Linked DNA regions of Homo sapiens: region 2 is linked to region 1. The links come from fine-mapping of genetic effects on gene expression. A gene starts in region 1. The other region holds a variant in brackets. All regions are shown on one strand. Distances are between the middles of the regions.

The links. PIP is the estimated chance that this variant, and not a neighbour inherited with it, causes the effect.
Region 2: its variant is fine-mapped to the expression of PEX5L in spinal cord (GTEx, PIP 0.97).

Annotation. Positions count from the first base shown.
Region 1 is chr3:180,031,452-180,042,257 of GRCh38, reverse strand. PEX5L (peroxisomal biogenesis factor 5 like) reads left to right here and starts at 5,321. Exons shown (of 15, transcript NM_016559.3): 1 at 5,321-5,679. The coding sequence starts at 5,659. RefSeq lists a silencer at 5,206-5,255.
Region 2 is chr3:180,070,978-180,081,783 of GRCh38, reverse strand. No RefSeq gene overlaps it. Among named protein-coding and RNA genes, the nearest start is that of PEX5L, 39 kb to the right of the region's middle. RefSeq lists enhancers at 2,583-3,107, 7,784-8,449. The variant T/C (reference allele first, on the strand shown) is at 5,948.

The DNA of each region.
Region 1 (10,806 bases):
TGGGCGGTATTTCTGCATACATGATTCATAAGTTATTTAAGAATAAAAAGGAATAAAACAAGGTTCTTGTCTCTACATCTGCCTACGTCTAATAGAGAGTTAAAAAGCACAGAAATAACTAAACAAAAGAAAAATTTTGGGGGCCTGGTGTAGTGGCTCACACCTGTAATTCCAGCACTTTGGGAGGATGAGTCACAAGGCTCCCTTGAGGCCAGGAATTCAAGACTACCCTGAGCAACATAAAAAGACCCTAACTCTACAAAAAAGGTTTTTAAAAAAATTAGCCAGGCATGGTGGTGCATGCCTGTAGTTTCAGCAACTCAGGAAGCTGAGGCAGGAAGATCACTTGAGCCAAGGAGTTTGAGGCTACAGTGAACTATGATCATGCCACCGCACTGCCGTCTAAACAATAGACGGCAGTTTGTTGTTTGTCTCCAAAACAACAAAAAAAGAAAAACTATAATTTAAAAAAATGTCATTTGGCGTATCATAAAGAAGTTCCCAGCAAAGAGAAGTATTCAGTTAGAGGATGAAGAAAGGCTTCAGGAAGGAAATGGAATTGGAAACCAAATTTGATAAATGAATGAGCTTTTATTCAAGAGGAGTGGGGAGAGAGAGTACATTCCAAGAAGAGGCAAGAGTATGAGTATAACTTGGGCTGACTTTGGGGAATAATTAAAAAGCAGGGTTATTGCAAAAGGTAGAGAACATACAGAACTGAAAAAAGACAGGGTCAGTCTATGGAAAGCCACTGTATTCATAAGTATTCTTTTGGTTGCAAGTGACCAAAAATCCAGTAAACCAGAAAAGAGATGGCACTAGCTGAAATAAAGATTACTTTAGACTAGCTTTTAAGTGTGGTTTATTTAGTGGCTCAAATTTTGTCTCCTGGAGCCTGCCTGGATTATTATTCCCCCAGGTTGGTTTTCTTTTCAGAGTTGGTGTGCTGGATTCTGGCAGTTCCAAGCTAACATCAGTAGAACATCCAGTCCAGAGGAAGAATCAATCTGCTCCCGAGTAGTCCTGGAGCTGAGTTCATTTCCCTGATTGACTGACGTGGGTAATATGCCCATCTCCAACTGTGACCAATGGGGACGGAATGCACTGGTTGGCTCAGCCTGGGTGCTATGTTGCAACCCCAAAGCCTGGTAGTAAAATGTTTCCTACCACACAAGTGGACCAGAGTGAGGAAGAGATGGTTATTCAAAGCAAAGAGCCTTGAGAAAAGAGGCTTCCTGCCACTAGAAGAGGATGTTGCTCTGGGCAGCAAACGATATTCCATGACTGTGAATAAAAAGCTGAAGTTTTGGGACATTAGTGGGCAATGGAAAGCCACTAAAGATTTCTGACCTGAGCAGCATTGTGATTAATGCTGACCTTTATAAAATTAATCTGGCTGCGATGTATATGACAGGTTGATGTAGGAGATGAACGGAGGTGATAAAACTAGCTTTAAGTGATAAGAGGTTTAGGGAATCTGGGCTAGGATGGCAGTGGCAACAGTAGAAAGGAGTAGTCAAAAGCAAGAAATATTTTTGTTCACAAATGTTTTCTCACCAGGAATAAGAAACTCTAGAAAGTACACTTAATATTAAAAGCAATATTGGATCACTGAAAAAACATTGTCCTAAAGAGTAAACAAATATAGTGTAATTTCTTAAATTGGTTTAATAGGAGGCCCAGCTCTGAAGCATCCAGCTTGTTTGTTCATTTGGAAGAACATTGCTGCCATCTCCTCGTCATCAGAGTCCACATACTCTTATTATTCATAATTCTTCCTGGCAGCCTGGGGTTCCCAAATTTTTTCCAGATCAAATGCCCTGAAACACCAGCTAATCTCATTCTATGTGTCGAAGAGACAAAAAGGGTAAGTGGGCAAACTTTAACAAAATGTTCCTCCTTCTGATTGAACAACAAATACCAATTAGTCATTTTAATTTTGGTCTACAATTATTTTGACTTTTGTTCTCTCCTGCACCATCTTTCAGCACCAGAGTTTGAATTCTACAGATTATGAAAGAATGATTGAATCATCAAAAGACTCTTATCTCTGATTTTTAAGTCCACAAGAACACTAACCTCATCATTTTTACTAAGTTTTTTCAAAGATTTAATAAATCCTGAATTTTCAATACCCATTTGAAATGCAGGAGGATTCGCTTACTAATAAGCAAAATTAAATTTTGTCAATACAAAATAGATTCTACTGCTACCTCTCAATTATTTAATTGTATTACAGTGATTAAAATTGCAGTGGTACTAAGCACATTTCTTGCTGTAAGAAAGCTGAATGTGCTATGATTTTATGCCAAGTCCACTGACCACTCAAAATACAGTGAGATTATTTTATAAATGGAGTGCAATATGCATTCTTCTTCTCTAGTGGTACTGAGGTTGCTCATGTGTTATCACTGCAAAAGGCAAGAGCTAGCTTTGCCACATATTTACATGAATAAATAAACCTTCTAGGCCACAGTGCTGGTCAAATTTTATGGTGCATACAAGCACCTGGGGATCTTGTTGAAACGCATATTCTAATTCAGTAGGTCAGAAATGGCACCCAAGAGTCTGCATTTCTTACAAGCTCCCAGGACATGCTGATGTTGCTGGTCCACACACCACGTTTTGAGTAACAAGGGTCTTCAAATTTAATTACAAAATAAATCTTTTGTAAAATATTTTTCTGGACCTAGCTTATTAGACATGCATTGTTTCTGAGGAAAATAAAGATAATTCAAATCTCATTCCTAGTCTAAGAAATAGTCTAGGAAAGTGAAAGTTAAGCTTAACCAATCAGAAACCACAAACTAACCTCTAACTATGGACTTTCCATTAGAATGATCCAAATAAATCCAGTATTCCTCTTTAACCAAATAATTTCTTTGCTCTGCTTCCACATTTACCCTATAAAATCTTTCCCTTTAACGACTTCCGACAGAGTCCCCAACTGCTTTCGGTCTGCTGCTGCCTGATGCATGAATGGCTATTTGCTCAAAAAACCCTTTAAAATTTTAATGTGCCTTAGTTTATCTTCTAACAGAAGGAATAAGTGTGAAGAGGAATTCTTCACAAAGGAAAGCTTTCACTCCTGAGATTTTGAGAATGTAGGCAGTAACGAAATCAGTGACTCAGGTTTAAGAAGAGAATATATTGAGTTCTAGCTTCAACACTAGGCAGTTGCCATTCTGATCCAAATGCTTTTATGGTTGTTGGCTCCTTGAACCTGCCGTTAGATAATAACAAGCATATAATGGATTGGAAAACTTTGACCCTATTGTTACTTCACAGATTTCTAGTACTTTTAAATCAAAGCACTATACTTTTCCCAGTTTTTATATAACATGATAGTATTATATGATAATTAGTACCATTTTAAAATCTGCAGTACTTGAGGTCTCAGAAAATCAGTCCTCATCTTTTCTGAACTGGGAAAAAAAAGTCTGTTTGCATATTCATATATCATGGTTGGTAATTTACAACTTCCTTTGCATACATTCAGTCCTCAGCAGCTCTGTGCAGCACACTAGGTAGATATTTGTCTTATTTCAAAATTGAGGAAATAGAGAGTTGGTACACTTGCCCAAGAGAGCATTGAGGTAGTGAGATGGAACTAGCACCTCTTGTTGCTGACTCCAAGTCCTGTGCTTTGTCCTATAAAGAACAATAAAATAAGAACTGGATGACATTTTACAGTTTACAGTGCTTATGAACATATCTCTATTTTCAGGGTAAAAAAAATAAGTTTTTTATACAGAGTTTAGACATGAAAAAACTGATGTCCAAAGTAGTAAAAGGAAATTGTCCAAGGGTAACTACTAGTGGAATCTAATAGGAATCCATGTCTCCTGCTTACAGGTCTTAGTCCTTTTGTGTTTGTTTGGTTGGTTGTTTTAGGACCTCAGATGCATTGAATTGGTTCATTTCACATCCTTTTGTTCATTTCACATTCTCCTCATTAGTCCATACATGGTTCTATTTTATTTAGTTACACAGTAATTTTTAATAGGATATTAGGTGTCCTATGAATCACTACCCGGCATAGAAGATAAGACATTAACATCTAAACTTCAAGTGAAATGCTTCCCCATCTATTTCCCTGCCTCCCTTCACCCAGGGTCACCAACACTCTGAACACTATATTCATTGTTCCACTGCTTTCCTTTTTATATTGTTGTATATGAATATATGAATACACATTGACATTTCTAGGGATTTTTTAAACTTTATAAAAAGCATATTATGCTATATGCAATATTTTGGGGATATCATGCTGTACATAATATGAGGGGCCTGTAGAATTGGAGATGTTTTTACCAACAAAATTAGGTAATCACAGTATACACCACCCCGTGGTGTGTGTGTATATATGAACATTTATTGTGTAGACACATCAAACTACCCAGTCTCAACTTGAGACATATTTAAATGCACTCTTCATATATGTGTGTATGTGTGTGTAAGTGTATAGTAGTAAAGGTCTATTCATTCAGCAAATATTTATTGTGTGCCTGCCATGTGTCAGGAAGTACTAAATACCTTACTGTGCACACACGTGCAAAACCAAGTGCAACACTCCACCCCCCTAAAAAAAAGTCCCTGATCTCATGGAAATAACATTGTACAGAGGGAGAGACAGACAGTACATAAAATAAATATGGAAAATATAAAGGATGTTAGGTGATGTTACGTGCTAGGGAAAAAAATAAAACATGCCAGATCCTCAGGGACTAGGGTTTGCCGTTTTAAATAGAATGCTCGGCGATGAACTGGGGATGAGGGGAGCGGGGAGTCTTTATTTAACGGGTGATACGGACGTAACTTTCGAGAGCTGAATCAGAACCGAAGTAAACTCTTCGGCAACCCCTGCACTCAGCCTATAATGTCTGTAGGATAACAGGCTCAGCCGCGGTGGATGGCCCCCGGAGAGACGATGCATGTCTTCCCGCCTTTCTTCCGGCCGGCCATCCTCTCCGCTAGAATCGCCCTGCCCGCCGACGCCGCACCTGAACGCCGCGCTGCTGCGGGCGTTGTACACCAGCGCGACCACCGCCTGCCGGCACCTCGCCTTGCCGCCGCGCGCGCGCAGCCCCGAGGACGCGCTCGGGGAGCGCGCACCGCCCGGGGCCGCCCTCGGGCCGCTCCCAGGCCCCTGGGAACGCGCGCGCGTGCCCGGTCCCGCGGCCTCTCGGCAGGCACGCGGCTGGGAGAACGGCGCGCGCCCCGCTCGGCAGCTGCGGCGGCGGCTGGTGTAGGCGCTCACGTCAGGGCTGGGAGGAGGGGGTTCGCAGCTCAGAGAGAGAGAGACATGAGGCAACCTGGCAGGAAGCGAGAAAGAGTTCGGCGAAGAAGGAGTGAGTTCTAGAGACGCCCCGCGAGCAGGACCCGCGCCTGCAGGAGAGCCTGGCCGACCCGGCTCCTCGCCTTCTCTGCGCGCTCTCCCGCGTCCGCTTTCAGCACCCCGAGCGGAGAACAGTTCCCGGCAGCCCGCAGCGCTGCCGAGTGGCCGCCGGCCGGCCGAGTACCCGGAGCTCCAGGGGGCTCAGGAGCACCCTCTGAGAACCCGCTGTGCACCCACCTTTTCCCCTCTTTTGGTGGGCAAGTAAGCACGGGGGAAAAGCATCCGGTGGCCTCAGGGAGCCCTGAAGAAACCGAAGCAGAATGTACCAGGGACACATGCAGGTAAGACATTTCTATAGGGCTGGAGAGAATTCTTGGGGGCTAATTTAAGAGCAAGGCGGTTCACCAAGTTTCTGTGGTCAAGTGCTGCCTTCGCACAGCTCAACAAGTGAAGTGATGCAACATGACCGTGACATTTCTGTCCGGTGCTGCCGGGAAAACTAGACCGGTTTCCGAAGGTGGGAGAAGGGGAGGGAAGACCTCAGAACTTCGATTGGGGAAGTTTGTTTTCTGTGCATTCCCTGAGCCTGTTTCTTTAAACAGGATCAAGGAATCGAAACAGAGGAAACCCTAGAGATGACCGTGTTTCCGTTGTAATCCTATTGATGCATCTCAGCATGTATGTCAACTGAAGGGCAAACAATAATAGGAAAGACAAAGCTTTTCCTTTACCATCTGAAAAGGTTGCTTGACTTAGAACACTCTGTCACTTTCGTTTCATTTTTTAAAGTGTTATATTTAAAAAACGATTTATAGTGTATTTTCCCCCTTCACATTATGGGACATTGCCATCTACTCCAATAGTCACAGGATGACTTGGGAGGATGAATTTCAAACACATGTCCAAGGAGCTCTAATGTTTTTCAGGGGAGGTGCTGCCTCCGGTTGTTATTAATATTCATCTGAGCTGAGCCGCTGCTTCTTTCCGATGCAAACACACTCTACTCTCTTGGGCAAGATTACTTTAACCTTGACTCCAGTTCTCATTCATACGGTTGGTTGGTTCTTATAAAGGCAGATATATGCTTTGGGAGAAAAATAAAATACTAACTCAGCTTTCTAAAGTATGAACTGGACTCTTTATCGCACCTAAATGGTTTAGTCATCAGGTTTGATGTTTGGGCTTCCTTTCCATTCCAAAGATGGTCAAATACAATCATTATGTGTGATGCCTTTATCCTGGTGTATAACATTTATGAATACTGAGGATTTTGCTTCTGTGTCTTTTAGAGCAATTGGAAATAGATAAATATGTTGTTATATTTATGACTTAGTACTACCCAGATTTAATTTCCATAACTTAGGGAAATTCTTTTGGACTATAATCCATTTTTAAATAAAACACAATATTTCATCATAGTCTCAATTTTTATAAGAATTCTCAATATACAGTGCCAGAATTCCAAAAGATTTCCCGTATGACTAACATCATCCTGTTTTGAAAATTATTAATGTGATTATATCACATTTGATAGACAAAAAGTAGTGAATGAAGTATATTTTTAAATATTATATATGATCAATGTGATCTGCATGTTTCTTATAAAAGCTACACCAATTGAAAAGTTAAGTAACATAGAAGAATTCAAATAATGACTGCTGAAAAAATTAACAAAGAATTATTACTATAGTTTTATGCTTCATCTTCACCCAAGAATGATACTTACAATTTTATATATTATCTGTTTTTTAAACAGTTTCTTCACAAGGGTAAAACAGGAAGATTTTAATAGAGTCAACCCTCAAAAAATTGTTCATTTACACAAAATTGACAATTGACCACTAAGGGGAAATTAACAAAAACTTTGCACAGTATTGTTTTGTTGCTTAAAAAATATGTTACTGTGAATGAAGAATCGAAGCAACAATATGGTAAATTCATGCACCCAAAAACAATTTTAACTCAATTTTCTCAATATCTCAAAGGAGAATGTTATTGAAACTTGAGTTGCCTGGAACAATGTCTGAGGGTTTAATTTCACTTTGAAAGAATAAACAAAATATAAGACTCTGCATATTCTCCCAACTTAATGTCTTTTGCTTGTGCACTGCTGTAACAGCAAATATGATGACTTGCAGTAAAACTCACAAATCTTTGCTGCCAAGCTTAAATTAAAACATTACTAAATAAAGACTGTAATCAATACATCCACCAAAATTTCAGAGCATAATACTTTTTTCCTACTTACTATTAACCATTAATGTTAAGCATAAAACTTCCGAGGCCTTAGTAGGTACGTTTAGTAGTTATTCAATAGTATGATGATCTGAATGGGCATCTGCTCCCCCCAACAAAAAAATACCTATGACAGATTGATTCATAATATACTTGTTGGCTTACATTTTAAACTCATATCTCTTCCCCCAAAGAATATTATTTAGCCTATGGACAAAATAACGTTTCCTTATCAGAGATACTATCATCTTCCTGTGTGTACCTGACTCTAATCACAGATAAGAAGAAACACATTCCAAACACTCCAAAATGTGTATGATTAAAATCTGAATCCATATTTGGTAAAGTGGACCAGGGATAAGCAGATTTACTAACATTTCTGCCAGCTTTGGAGTTAATTTGAAACATAATGTTACTTGACTGATACCTTAAAACAAGAGTGAAACAGAAATGTTTGCAATCTTTTGCTATGCATTCTAATTCTTCTCTTTTCTGTATCCAAGAGACTTTAAAATAAAGTGCTTTGTAAATTAGCAGTTTGAAGTAGGGGCAGGTGTTCTCAGGAAGACTTAAAAATAGTCTAATTTAAAACTCCTGTGGTGCCTTTGTTTTTGCAACTTAATGATTTTGCAGATAAAGTCTATTAATTCTCATACATATGGCTAATTCATCTGGTTTATGGTAGAATCTGAATTCATTTTAGAAACCGCAGACTTTTAAAAACACACATTTGGTTTGCTCTGCTAGTTCATTAGAAAATAAAAGTTGGCATCTATTACAGATAGAGCATAGAGTAACAGATATTTCTTGGTTTCATAGTAAAAGCCGCAGGTATATTTCTTAGGAGCAGGGTCCTGGAGCTATGTTTTTATCCAGCTGCCTTACCAATTATTTCCAAGGGGAGTTAGTCACCCCAGTAAATGAAGCAAAGGTTGCTTCTTTTGTGACTGTTTTAGATTTACTTATTTTTTTCTTTTGACCAAGGGCACTGATGATGATTGAATATACTTTAGCATCGGTTCTGACAAAACTCTGTTGCTCATTGAGGGCCTATGGTCTTAATTCCACCAATACCTCTGTATGTTCAGGGCTGAGGTGATTATTTGCCTATGTGCATTTGAGTTAACATTTCCAGTTAGAGGAAATTATTACATGTCTCTCAATGTTTTCTTAACCTAGCTGTTTTATTTCTGGGGTGGTATAAATACAGAGAAATATAATTTCAATTTTCTACTAAGATTTTTTGAATTGTTATTGAAGAATCCACAGCAATGGGTTTTTTAATAAAAGAAAGTTATTTCAGAAGGCAATCAAACAAAAAATCTATTTGTAATTGTAACTGATCTTTATTTTAGGCATTCAAAGCAGACTTTTTGACTTATTCAAGCTGTCTGGGGAATCATTCCACACCCTCTAGCTTCACAAGACATAAACTAAGGAAAATTTAAATGACAAAAATTGTAAGATTATTAACAGCCCAAAAAGTAGCCATTTGTTTTCCCCCAGGGGAGTTTTGCATTTGTTTTTCTATATGACTTTACTTAAGATTTTTCTTAAAATCTCTACAAAGGGGAATAGCTTAGGTAATTTAAGTTATGTTAGTACATTAGATCTCGCCCCTGGTGATTTATTTAGGTTCACTAGAAACAAAATACATAAGAAACCAATTGAAGGTAAGACTGTAGAACGTTGTTTTCAATACCCTAAACAGTAGGTTATCATAATTGAGGCCCTCAGCAAAACTGTAAAGCAGATGATATTTATCATGGGTACTTCCACCTCTCTAACAGATCCACTTTTTTCCCTCCTGGTACCACCTTTTTTAATTCTTGAGACAGGGTCTTTCTCTGTCCCCCAGGCTAGAGTGCAGTGGCCCAATCTCGGCTCACTGCTTGCTATGCCTCCCTGGCTCAAGCAATTCTCCCACCTCAGTCTCCCAAGTAGCTGGGACTACAGGTGCATGCCACCATGCCCAGATAATTTTTGTATTTTTTGTAGAGACAGGGTTTCACCATGTTGTCCAGGCTGGTCTTGAACTCCTGAGTTGAAGCGATCCACGCGCCTTTGCCTCCCACAGTGCTAGGATTACAGGCATGAACCGCAGCTCCCGGCTCACCCTTTTCCATCCTGTGTTCTTTCTTTCTTAACCCTTTGCTAAGGCATTAACTGCTAGCAAAGATATGACTAATAGCAATAAACCACCTGCACGCACACACATACACACATTTTCAGAGGCGAGTCTTTGAGATTAGTTTAGAGTTGGAACGGGGGTGGCATTTTCAGGAGAGTGAGCAGTGCTGGGGTTTGTTGTGTTGTTTTGGTCAGTGGTTGCTGCTGCCTTCCTCTCCCCCTTTGTTATCTCAGTTCAAGTGGCACCTGGTCTTCTTCCTCAAATGTCATCTTATAGGTAATGATGAGCATAAGTATGATGAAATATTAACTAGAACTCTGTTGAAGCAAATTCATGTACATTTAAGCTGTTGATCAAAATTATGACACAAGCTCCAGCAAGATTCTGAAGTGTCTTCCTGTATATTCACATGCAAATCATGTTTGGTATGGATGTAGTGTTGAGCTTTTAACACTTGAAAGTTATAATAGTTGTGGTATGCATTAGCAGAATACTTGATTAATCTGAAAATCTCATTCCCCAGCCATACTGGCCAATAGTTTATATACTTACTATAAGAAACACAATATAGTCTTTGTAGATTTTATTTGTGGTTTATAAATATTCCTCCTAAAAACATGTGTTTGAAAGTAAAAATTTCATCATATAAATGTTTTTATTATAAAACATTTTTTAAAGTAAAGAATAAGAAAAGGTTAAAACACAACTTGTTAACTCTACAATTTTGAATCTCTAGTATTACCACTGCCAATCCTGGAAACATTAAGATGTGATACACCATGTAGTCAAAACATCTGGCAGGCTGCTTTTTTACACTTTTCATTGAGATCACATGTTTCCAACATAAGCTAAAGCTGTTAAAAGGTTTTATATTTTAAAATTACCTTCTTGATACATTTATAGGATAACCAGTGTGCAATTCTAACGCTAAATGTAAAGGTAAACTCCAGCCTAGTGTGTCCTTATTAAGAAACCTAAATCCAATCTGAATGTTTGGGACATCTAAAAATATAATTTCAAATATGCTGACAGAGAAAACTAGTAACCAAGTTCCTGAAACATTTTTCACCTTTTTATAATTCAGAACATATAAAACACAAAT
Region 2 (10,806 bases), 40 kb before region 1:
GTGCCCATTCTTGAGGGGGTATGTTCTCATGCTTAGTTCCCAAAAGAACTGATTGTTAAAAAGAGTCTGGAAACTCCCACACACACACCTTGCTTCCTCTCTCACCATGTGACAAGTGGCTCCCTTTACCTTCCACCATGACGACCTCATCAGAAGCAGATGTTGGTGACAGGCTTCTTGTACAGTTTGCAGGAAGATGAGCCAAATAACTTTTTTTTTTTTTAGATTACCCAGCCTCAGGTATTTCTTTATAGTGACACAAATGAACTAAGAGAGTCTGTGTCTACATTTATTTTAATTGCATTGCATTTGAATGTCTAGTTGTTTGCTCCTTTGTCAAATGTCAGTTGACTATATTTATGTGGGTCTTTGTCAAAGATCAGTTGACTATATTAATGTGGGTCTATTTTTGAGCTCCCTATTCTGTTCCATTGATCTGTGTGTCTATTATTTCATCAGTACCACACTGTCTTGGTTACTGTGGCTTTATGGTAAGTCTTGAAATTAGGTAGTGTCAATTCTCAAACTTTGTTATCCTTCAATATTGTGCTGACTATTCTGGATTTTTTGCCTCTCCATATAAAATTTAGAATCAGTTTGTCAGCATCAGCAGAATAACCTGCTGAGACTTTATTGCTGTTGCATTGAACCCATAAATCAAGTTTGGAAAAACTGATTTATTGACAATATTGAGTCTTCCTATCTATGAACATGAACTATCTCTTCATTTATTTAGTTCTTTGATTTCTTTTAGCAGACTTTTCTACTTTTCCTAATATAGATCTTATATATATTTTGTTAAATTTCTACCGAGTTATTTCATTTTTTGGAGCACTAATGTAAATGCTATTGTATTTTTAAATTTCAAATTCTTGTTGTTCACTGCTGGTATATAGAAAAGCAATTGACTTGTGTGTATTAACTTTATAATCCGCAACCCTGCTATAATCACTTATTTTTTCTAGGAGTTGGGTGTTTTTTCAACTATTGAATTTTCTGCATAGATGATCATGAAAATTGTGAACAAACAGCTTCATTTTTTCCTTCCCAATCTGTATACCTTTTTTTCTGTTTCCTGTCTTATTGCATTAGCTAAAACTTCCAGTATGATACTAAAATCGCAGTGGTAAAAGGGGATGTTGTTCCTTGGTGGGAAAGCTTTGAGTGTCTCAGCATTATGATATTTGTTATAGATTTTTTATAGCTATTTTTAATCAAGTTGAAAATGTTCTCCAATATTCCTAGTTTATTAAGATATTCATATTTGTTCTTTTTAAACGATGTTTACGTTTCAGTTTGGGAAGTTTTTATTAACATATCTCAAGTTTATTTATTCTTGCCTTGGCAATGTCTAGTCTGCTGATAAGCTCATTAATGGCATTCTTTATTTCTTTTACAAGATTTTAGTTCTTCGCATTTCTTTTAATTCCCAAAGTTTCCATCTCTTTGCTTATATTCTTCACCTGTTCTTGTATGTTGTCAACTTTTTCTTCAAGTTCTTTAATATATTAATCATAGTTATTTTAAATTCACCATCTGATAATTCCAAAATCTGTGCTATATCTAAGTCTATTTCTGATGCTTACTTTGTCTCTTCAGACTATATTTTTTCTTGGCTTTGAGCATGCCTTGTAACTTTTTGTTGAAAGCCAGACATAATGTATTGGGTAATAGGAACAGGGGTGATTAGGCTTTTGGTGTGAGGTTTTATGGTAATCTAACTAGGCACTCCACTGTATTTAATGTTTATTTACTGTGGCTGTAGATACCAGAGATTTTAGTTGCCTCTAGTTTTTGTGTGTGTGTTTTATTCCCCTCTTGTCTTTGTGCTTACCTAAGGATTCCTTCTTAAGTTGAGTTTGTGTATTGTACCTCTCTTCATTGTAATCCACTGATACTATACTGCAGCTTTGCTGATGTGATAGTGATATGGGTTCGCTCTGTGTTCCCACCCAAATCTCATGTTGAATTGTAATTTCCCATGTTGAAGGAGGGGCCTGGTGGGAGATGATAGAATTATGAGGGTAAACTTCTCCCTTGCTGTTTTCATGATAGAATTCTCACAAGATATGGTTGTTTTAAAGTGTGTAGCACTTTCCTCTTCATGCTCTCTCTCTTTTCTGCCACCATGTGAAGACATACTTGCTTCCCCTCCACCCTTCCACCATGATTCTAAGTTTCCTGAGGCCTCCCAGCCATGCTTCCAGTACAGCATGTGGAAGTGTGAGTCAAACCTCTTTTCTTTATAAATTACCCAGTCTCAGGTACTTCTTTATAGCAGTGTGAGAATGAACTAATACAGAAAATTGGTATAAGAGAAGTGGGGCATTGCTATAAAGATACCTGAAAATGTGAAATCAACTTTGGAACTGGGTAATAGGCAGAGGCTGGAACAGTTTGGAGGGGTCAGAAGAAGACAGGAAGATGTGGGAAAGTTTGGAACTTCCCAGAGACGTGTTGAATGATTGTGACCAAAATGTTGATAGTGATATGAACACTGAAGTCCAGGCCGGGTGGTATCAGATGGAGATGAAAAACTTATTGGGAACTAGAGCAAAGGTCACACTTGCTATGCTTTAGCAAAGAGACTGACAGTATTGTGCCCCTGCTCCAGGGATCTCTAAAATTTTGAACACAAGAGAGATGATTTAGGGTACCTGGCAGAAGAAATTTCTAAGTAGCAAAGCATTCAAGATGTGGCCTGGTTGCTCTAAAAGCCTAGCTCATTTGCATAAGCAAAGAGAACTTATATTTAAAATGGAAGCAGAATATAAAAGTTTGGAAAATTTGCTGCCTGGCCATGTGGTAGAAAAGAAAAACCCATTTCCTGGGGAGAAAGTCAAGCTTGCTGAAGAAATTTGCATAAATAAAGAGGAGCCAAATGTTAATAGTGAAGACAATGGGGAAAATGTCTCCAGGGCATTTCAGAGACCTTCACAGCAGCCCCTCCCATCACAGGCCTAGAGGCCTAGGAGGGAAAATATGGTTTCACGGGCCAGGCCCAGGACTCAGCTGCTCTGCACAGCCTCAGGACATGGTGTCCTGCATCTCAGCTGCTCCAGCTCCAGCCATGGCTAAAAGATGCCAAGGTACAGCTCAGGCCATGACTTCAGAGGGTGAAAGCCCCAAGCCTTGGCAGCTTCCACGTGGTGCTGGGCCTGCAGGTGTGCAAAAGGCAAGAGGTGATGTGTGGGAACCTCTGCCTAGATTTCAGAGGATGTATGGAAATGCCTAGATGTACAGGCAGAAGTCTGCTGCAGGGGCAGAGCCCTTGTGGAAAACCTCTTCTAGGGCACTGCAGAGGGGAAATAGAGGGTTGAAGCCCCCACACAATTTCCCACTGGGGCCTGCCTAGTGGAGCTATGAGAAGAGGGCTAGCATCCTTCAGATCCCAGAATAGTAGATCCACTGACATCTTGCAATGTGCACCTGAAAAAGCTGCAGGCACTCAACACCAGCCCATGAAAGCAGTCACGAAGGCTGTACCCTGCAGAGCTGCAGGGGTGAAGCTGCCCACCCTTTGTGTCAATGTGACTTGGATGTGAGACATGGAGTCAAAGGAGATTATTTTGGAGCTCTAAGATTTAATAACTGCCCTGCCAGGTTTCAGACTTGCATGGCACCTGTAGCCTCTTTGTTTTGGCCAATTTCTCCCTTTTGGTCTTACCTAGTGCCTATACCCTCATTGTATCTTGGAAGTAACCAACTTGTTTTTGATTTTACAGATTCATTGGCAGAAGGGACTTGCCTTGTCTCAAATGAGACTTTGGACTTGGACTTTTGAGTTAATGATAGAACAACTTAAGACTTTAGGAGACTGTTGGGAAGGCATGATTGTGTTTTGAAATGTGAGAGGTACATGAGATTTGGGAGGGGCCGGGGTGGAATGATATGGTTTGGCTCTGTGACCCCACCCAAATCTTATGTCAAATTGTAATTCCTAGTGTTGAAGGAGGGGGCTGGTGGGAGGTGATAGAATCATGGGGGCGGAATTCCCCCTTGGAGTTCTCAAAATAGAGTTCTTATGAGATCTGGTTGTTTGAAAGTGTGTAGCACTTGCCCCTTTGCTCTCTTGGTCTCTGTCTCTCTCTGTCTCTCTCTGTCTCTCTCTCTCTCTCTCTCTCCTGCCACCATGTGAAGACATGCTTGCTTTGCCTCCACCCTTCCACCATGATTGTAAGTTTCCTGAGGCCTCTCAGCCATGCTTCCTGTACAGCCTGTAGAAGTGTAAGTCAATTAAACTTCTGTTCTTTATAAATTACCCAGTCTCAGGTACTTCTTTATAGCAATGTGAGAATAGACTAATACAGATAGTAAAGTGTTATTGATGAGAAGCTTTCTATAATCTTATGATAAGATCTCATTTTTGGTGTTCAGCTTGGGTTCCTGGGCTGTGACCTTCAGCAGTACAGTTGGCCCTCTGTAGTCACAGGTTCTGTATCTGTAGAGTCAACCAATTTTCAATTGAAATATTCAAAATAATTTAAAATAATACAAATTTATAAACAAGCCAGATGCAGTGGCATATGACTACAGTTCCAGCTACTCAGGACCCAAAGGCAGGAGGAAAACTTGAGCCCAGGAGTCCAAGGCTAACCTAGGCAACATAGCAAGATTTATCTCAAGGAGAAATACAGTATAACAACTATATTTACGTAGCATTTACATTGTGTTCAGTATTGTAAGTAATCTAGAAATGATTTAAAATATACAGGAAGAAGTACGTAGGTTATATGCAAATACCATACAATTTTATATTTTGAAGAACTCAAGTGTCCCTGGATTTTGGTATCCACAGGTGAAAAGGTTCTAGGAACTAATCACCTGTTAATACTGAATGAGAGCTGTCTTTTCTTGGTGTTAAGTTTTCTCAGGGACTAGTCTTTTTTCTTCCCCCTTGTCCTCTTATCTGTAGCAGGGAGGATAGAGAGGGCTAGATCTGGCCAATTGCCCCTCCCCTACATCAGGTAAGACTCTGGTAATGTAGTTCCCCTTGCATGGCAGGATATTTTTTTCTTTTCATAATTTTTTATTTTTGTAAATACGTAGTAGGTATATATATTTATGGGATACATGAGATGGTTGATACAGTCATGTAATGAGTAATAATCACATCATGGAGAATGGGGTATCCACCTTCTCAAGCATTTATCCTTTGGGTTACAAACAATCCAATTATACTCTTTTAGTTATTTTTAAATGTACAATGAAATTATTATTGACTATAGTCACCCTGTTGTGCTATCAAATAGTAGGTTTTATTTATTCTTTCTAACTATATTTTTGTATTCATTAACCATCACCACCTCCCCCCACACCCCCCGACTATCCTTCCCAGGCTCTAGGAACAAACCTCCTAATGTCTGTCTTCATAATTCCAATCATTTTTATCTTTAGATCCCACAAATAGGTAAGAATATGTGATGTTTGTCTTTATGTGCCTGGCTTATTTCACTTAACACAATAACCTTCAGTTCCATTCATATTGTTGCAAATGACAGGATCTTATTCTTTTTGTGGCTGAATAGTATTCCATTGTGTATATGTATCAGATTTTCTTTATCCATTCATCTGTTGATGGACACTTAGATTATTTCCAAATCTGGGCTGTTGTGAACAGTGCTGTAACAAACATTAGAGTGCAGATATCCCTTCAATATACTGATTTCCTTTCTTTTAGATATATACTCAATAATGAGATGGTTGGATCATATGGATCTATTTTTATTTTTATTTTTTGAGGAATCTCCAAACTGTTATCCATAGTGGTTGCACTAATTTACATTCCCACCAACAGTGTGCAAGGGCTCCCTTTTCTCCACATCCTCATCAGCATTGGTAATTGGCTGTCTCTGGATATAAGCCATTATAACTTGATAATATCTCATTGTGGTTTTGACTTGTATTTCTCTGATGATCAGTAATGTTGGGAACTTTTTCATATATC[T/C]GTTTGCCATTTGTATGCCTTCTTTGGAGAAATGTCTATCTAAATCTTTTGTCCGTTTTTTGATTAGATTATCAGTTTTTTTTCTATAGAGTTATTTGAACTCCTTACATATTCTGGTTATTGATCCTTTGTCAGAAGGGTAGTTTGCAAATATTTTCTCTCATTTTGTGGGTTGTCTCTTCACTTTGTTGATTGTTTCCTTTACTGTGCAGAAGCTTTTCCACTTGATGTGATCCCATTTGTCCAGTTTTGCTTTGGTAGCCTGTGCTTGTGAGGTATAACTCAAGAAATCTTTGTTCAGACCAACGTACTGAAGATTTCTGCCAGTGATTTCTTATAGTAGTTTCATAGTTTGAGGTATTAGATTTAAGTCTTTAATCTATTTTCATTTGATTTTTGTATAGAGTGAGAGATGGGGGTCTAGGTTCATTATTCTGCATATCCTTTTCTTTCTTTGTTTCTTTTTTTTTTTTTTTTTGAGGTGGAGTCTCGCTCCGTCCCTCGGGCTGGAGTGCAGTGGTGCAATCTTGGCTCACTGCAAGCTCCGCCTCCTGGGTTTACGCCATTCTCCTGCCTCAGCCTCCCGGGTAGCTGGGACTACAGGCGCCTGCCACCACGCCCACGCCCAGCTAGTTTTTTTTGTATTTTTAGTAGAGACGGGGTTTCACGGTGTTAGCTAGGATGGTCTCGATCTCCTGACCTCGTGATCTGCCCGTCTCGACCTCCCAAAGTGCTGGGATCCTTTTCTTTCTGATTGAAGTATTCCTTTTAGCATTTCTTGTAGGATAGGTCTAGTGTTGATGAAATCCCTCAGCATTTTTTTTTTTTTTTTTTTTTGTCTGGGAAAGTATTTTTTCTTCATGTTTGAAGAGCATTTCTGCTGAATATACTATTGTAGGGTAAATTATTTTTTTCCTCCAGTGCTTTAAATATGTCATGCCACTCTCTTCTGGCCTGTAAGGTTTCCACTGAAAAGTCTGCTGTTTACATGTATTGGAGCTCCATTCACATGTTATTTGTTTTCTCTTGCTGCTGTTAGGTTTCTTTTTTTATCCTTGATCTTTAGGAGTTTGATTATTAAATGTCTTGAAGTAGTCTTGTTCTGAGATGGCTCACTGTTCTGAGCCATCTGAAGCTGGGAGTGAAGTGACACAAGCACCCCAAGACCACCACCACTATAACTGTACTGGGTCAGACCTGAAGCCAGCAGAGTACTGGGTCTCACCCAAGGCCTGCTGTAACCATCCCCTGGCTACTGCCTGTGTTTGCTCAAGGCCCTGGGCCTCTAAAATCAGCAGGTAGTAAAGCCAGCCAGCCCTATGTCCTTCCTTTCAGGGCAATGTGTTCCTCCAGGCTCCAGGCAGATCCAGAGGTGCTGTCAGGGAGCCAGGAACTAGCATCAAAAACCTTAGAAGTCTACCTGGTGTTCTATTGTACTGCGGCTAAGCTGGCATTCAAACCACAAAATGCAGTCTTTCTCACTATTCCCTCCCCTTTCCAAAGGCAGAGGAACCTCATTACATAGCCGCTGCCACCACAGGCTCATTGGAAATACTGCCAGACTTCCGCCAATGTTCCCTTAAGGCCCATGGGCTCTTCAGTCAGCTTGCGGCAAATGCTGCTTGGCCTGGGACCCACCCTTCCGGGCAATACACTCCCCTCTGGCCCAGGGCAGGTATATAAATGCCATCCAAGGCCAAATATTGGAATCAGGGACCCCAAGAGCCCACTTGGTACTCTACATCCTTGTGGCCGAGGTGGTACCTAAGGTGTAAGACAAAGTCCTCTTTACTTTTCTTTCTGCTTTCTCAAGCAGAAGGGGGCTTGCCCTGTAGCTACCACAGCTTGGAATGTGCATAGTCTCACCTGAAGCCAGCAAGTCTGAGTCTTATCCAAGGCATTTGATGTGGGTATCACTGCTAATTATTCCAGGCCCAAGAGCTCTTCAGTTAGCAGGTAATTAATTCTGCAAGAACTAGATCCTTCAAAGCAGTATGTTCCCTTCTGGCCCAGAATGTGTCTGGAAAAGTTGTCTGGGAGTTAAAGCCTCATGTCTTTGACTCATCCCCTAACATGCTGTGACTCAGCTGGTATCCAAGATGGAAGAACAAGTTCTTCCCACTCTTCCCTCTCCTCCCCTCAAGCAGAAGGAAGAATTCTCTTTTGGAGCCACTGGCTATGCAGCCTGAGGTTAGGGGAGGGATGATGCCAGCACTCCCTTAGCCACTCCAACTGGTGTTTCAGTAGGTCATATGTCCCCACCAGTCCACTATCTCTGGGCCCAGTTCAGAACTAGGACTCACGTAAGAGTTGCAGTCCTTGTGGCCTGGACTGCCTTTCAAGTTCATTTTGGGCCCCATAGCACTTTAGCCCATGGTGGCGAGGCTTGTGGGAACTCAAGTTCCAACAGCTGAATGGGCAGTTCCCCTCTGGCTTGGGCTGGTTTAAATGCTTCCTCCGTGGGCAGGTGTTAGCTGAATTTGTTCCAGTTTTTCCTTCTGCTATAACAAGACAGTACTGAGTTCAATGTCTCACAATTGCTTTGCTCTCCCTCCCCCAGCACCCAGAAATGCTGTCCATACCACGCCACCACTGCTAGGATGTGGGGGGCAGTGTCATCAGCAATTTAAGACTGTTAATGCTACCTCTTCAGTGCCTCTTTCAGCAATATCAAGTTAAAACCAGGTACTTTGAGTGGTCACCGAGTTTTTTTTTCTTATGAGGGTGCTTTTTTGTGTGTGAACAGTTCTTAAATTGTGTCTTTGTGATGAGTGGGGGATGATTGCTGGAGCCCTTCTATTCCACCATATTGCTCCACCTCCTCCCCTGGGAGGGTAGGCTTTTGTTATGGAGGAATTCTGAGTATATTCAAAATGGTTACTCTTCCCCTCCCTCTTCTCCAAATACAGATAGAAATTTTTCTCTGATCCTCAAGAAAAGAACCTGGTGAAGCTCCAGGAGGTAAATCTGCAAAGTATTGGCTTCCATAGGGACTAGACCTTTAAGAGTTTAAACCTCAAGCTAGTACACTCAGCTTCCAGAAATTCCTCAAAATTACCATACAAGTGTTTCTACCCATTTATTGTTCTGGTGGCTTCTGCTTCAGGTAAACTGATCTTGGCTCTGATTCTTTGTATTTGCCAGTCTTTCCAGATTTAGAGGGCAGTGGGGAGGTAGTTTGCCCTGTAACCTTACTTCTTTGATGGACTTAAGAAATGTCATTGATTTTCAGTTTGTTCAATGTTTTTACCATTTTGAGTGTGGGAGTGATGACTTCCAAGCTTTTTTCATGTCACAGCTAAAAAAAAATATTTTAACAGCTTTATTGAGTTACATTTTACATATTATAAAATTCATCTATTTTAAGTGTCCAATTTGATGATTTTTGGCAACTTTACTGAGTAGTGCTAACATCACCATAATTAGTTTTAGAGTATTTTTATCCCAAAAGGAAGAGAGTGTGTTTTTGATATCTCCTACCCCCCTCACTGAAACCCTCCCACATGTCCAGGCCTAAGTGTCTTTGCTAATAAACTCTTCCCCCAGAGTTTTATTCTATCTTTTAAAATACCGTCTGCTAGATCTCTCCTAATTCTCAACCTTGTTTACCTCAAAGATTGGGTTTAGAGTTAGAAGACCGCACACTGCCACTTACTGTTTTTATCACATTAGGTAATTCACTTCAATGTTGGAGATTTGCTTGAGGAAAGCAAGGAAGAATAGTTTATCTTGCAACTAGCAATCAGTTCCCTGCAACTAGCAAAATACTGGGCACATAGGCAGTGATCAATAAATATTTGTGAATGAATGAATCTGGAAGATTCATGAAATATTAATAATGGGGTGTATGCAATCAAGGAGTTCGTGGACCTATGTATATAAATCTAAGAGGTAAGGAATGTCCTTCCTAACTCAGGATTTTTATAAGCCAGATGTTATGTTATTAAGAGCCTTTTCAGTGATATTCTTCCTCTTTTAATAAGTACGGAGGTATGCAGTAATGATTGACATCCCCTCATACTCTTTGTTTTTAAAATCTTTTGGCTATTCTTGGCTCTTCTATCTTCTCCATATTTATTTTAGAAACTGCTCTAGAAGCTCTGTGAAAAATCATACCATTTTATTCAAGGTAATGATCCCAGTCTTTGCTCATACTTATACTGGCTGTTATAACTCTACATTTATCCACAAACTCTAATACAGTAGTTCTGAGGTCTTACTTCTTCATTGTATCTTAGTTGGGATTAACTAAAGATTCTGGACCAGAAATGTTCAACTTGCCTAGACAAACCCAATGAAATAAAGAGATATTTGGGCAACTATATTTTACTATAGAGCCTTTCCCAAGTTTTATTTTTTGGAATTCTTCCCATATTATCCTTTTTGAGGGGAAGAGTGCATTTGATTCTAGTTATTAGTGTGATTTCCTATTATACTACAGAACTAAATTCATACAAGCACTGGTAAAAGGTAGATTCCACACTACTTAGAGGCTCAAGGACTAAAAGGTGTTAGTTCCTCCAAATCTAAATCCTGGGATCTTACCACATCTAACTGATCATGAAACAGAAGGAAGTTGAAGGGGTAAAGGTCCAGCTTACCTTATCCAAATAACTAAATGTATGGAAGAGACAGAAAGAAATGTTAGAGTTAATTTGCCTTGGCTAGTTTCGAAGAGCCAAACTCTGTTTTGACCTCGTTTTCACTTTAAAGTAGGAAACAGGAAGTAGAATGCAGGTTCATTTCTTAAAAGACCACCATGAAGCAAGTTGCCACTCTGCATCTTTTAGAGGGCAAGCAAGTAAGTGAGTGAAGAAAAGGGTGGAAAGCGGGGGCAGATCTGATGTGGAAAGAAGGGA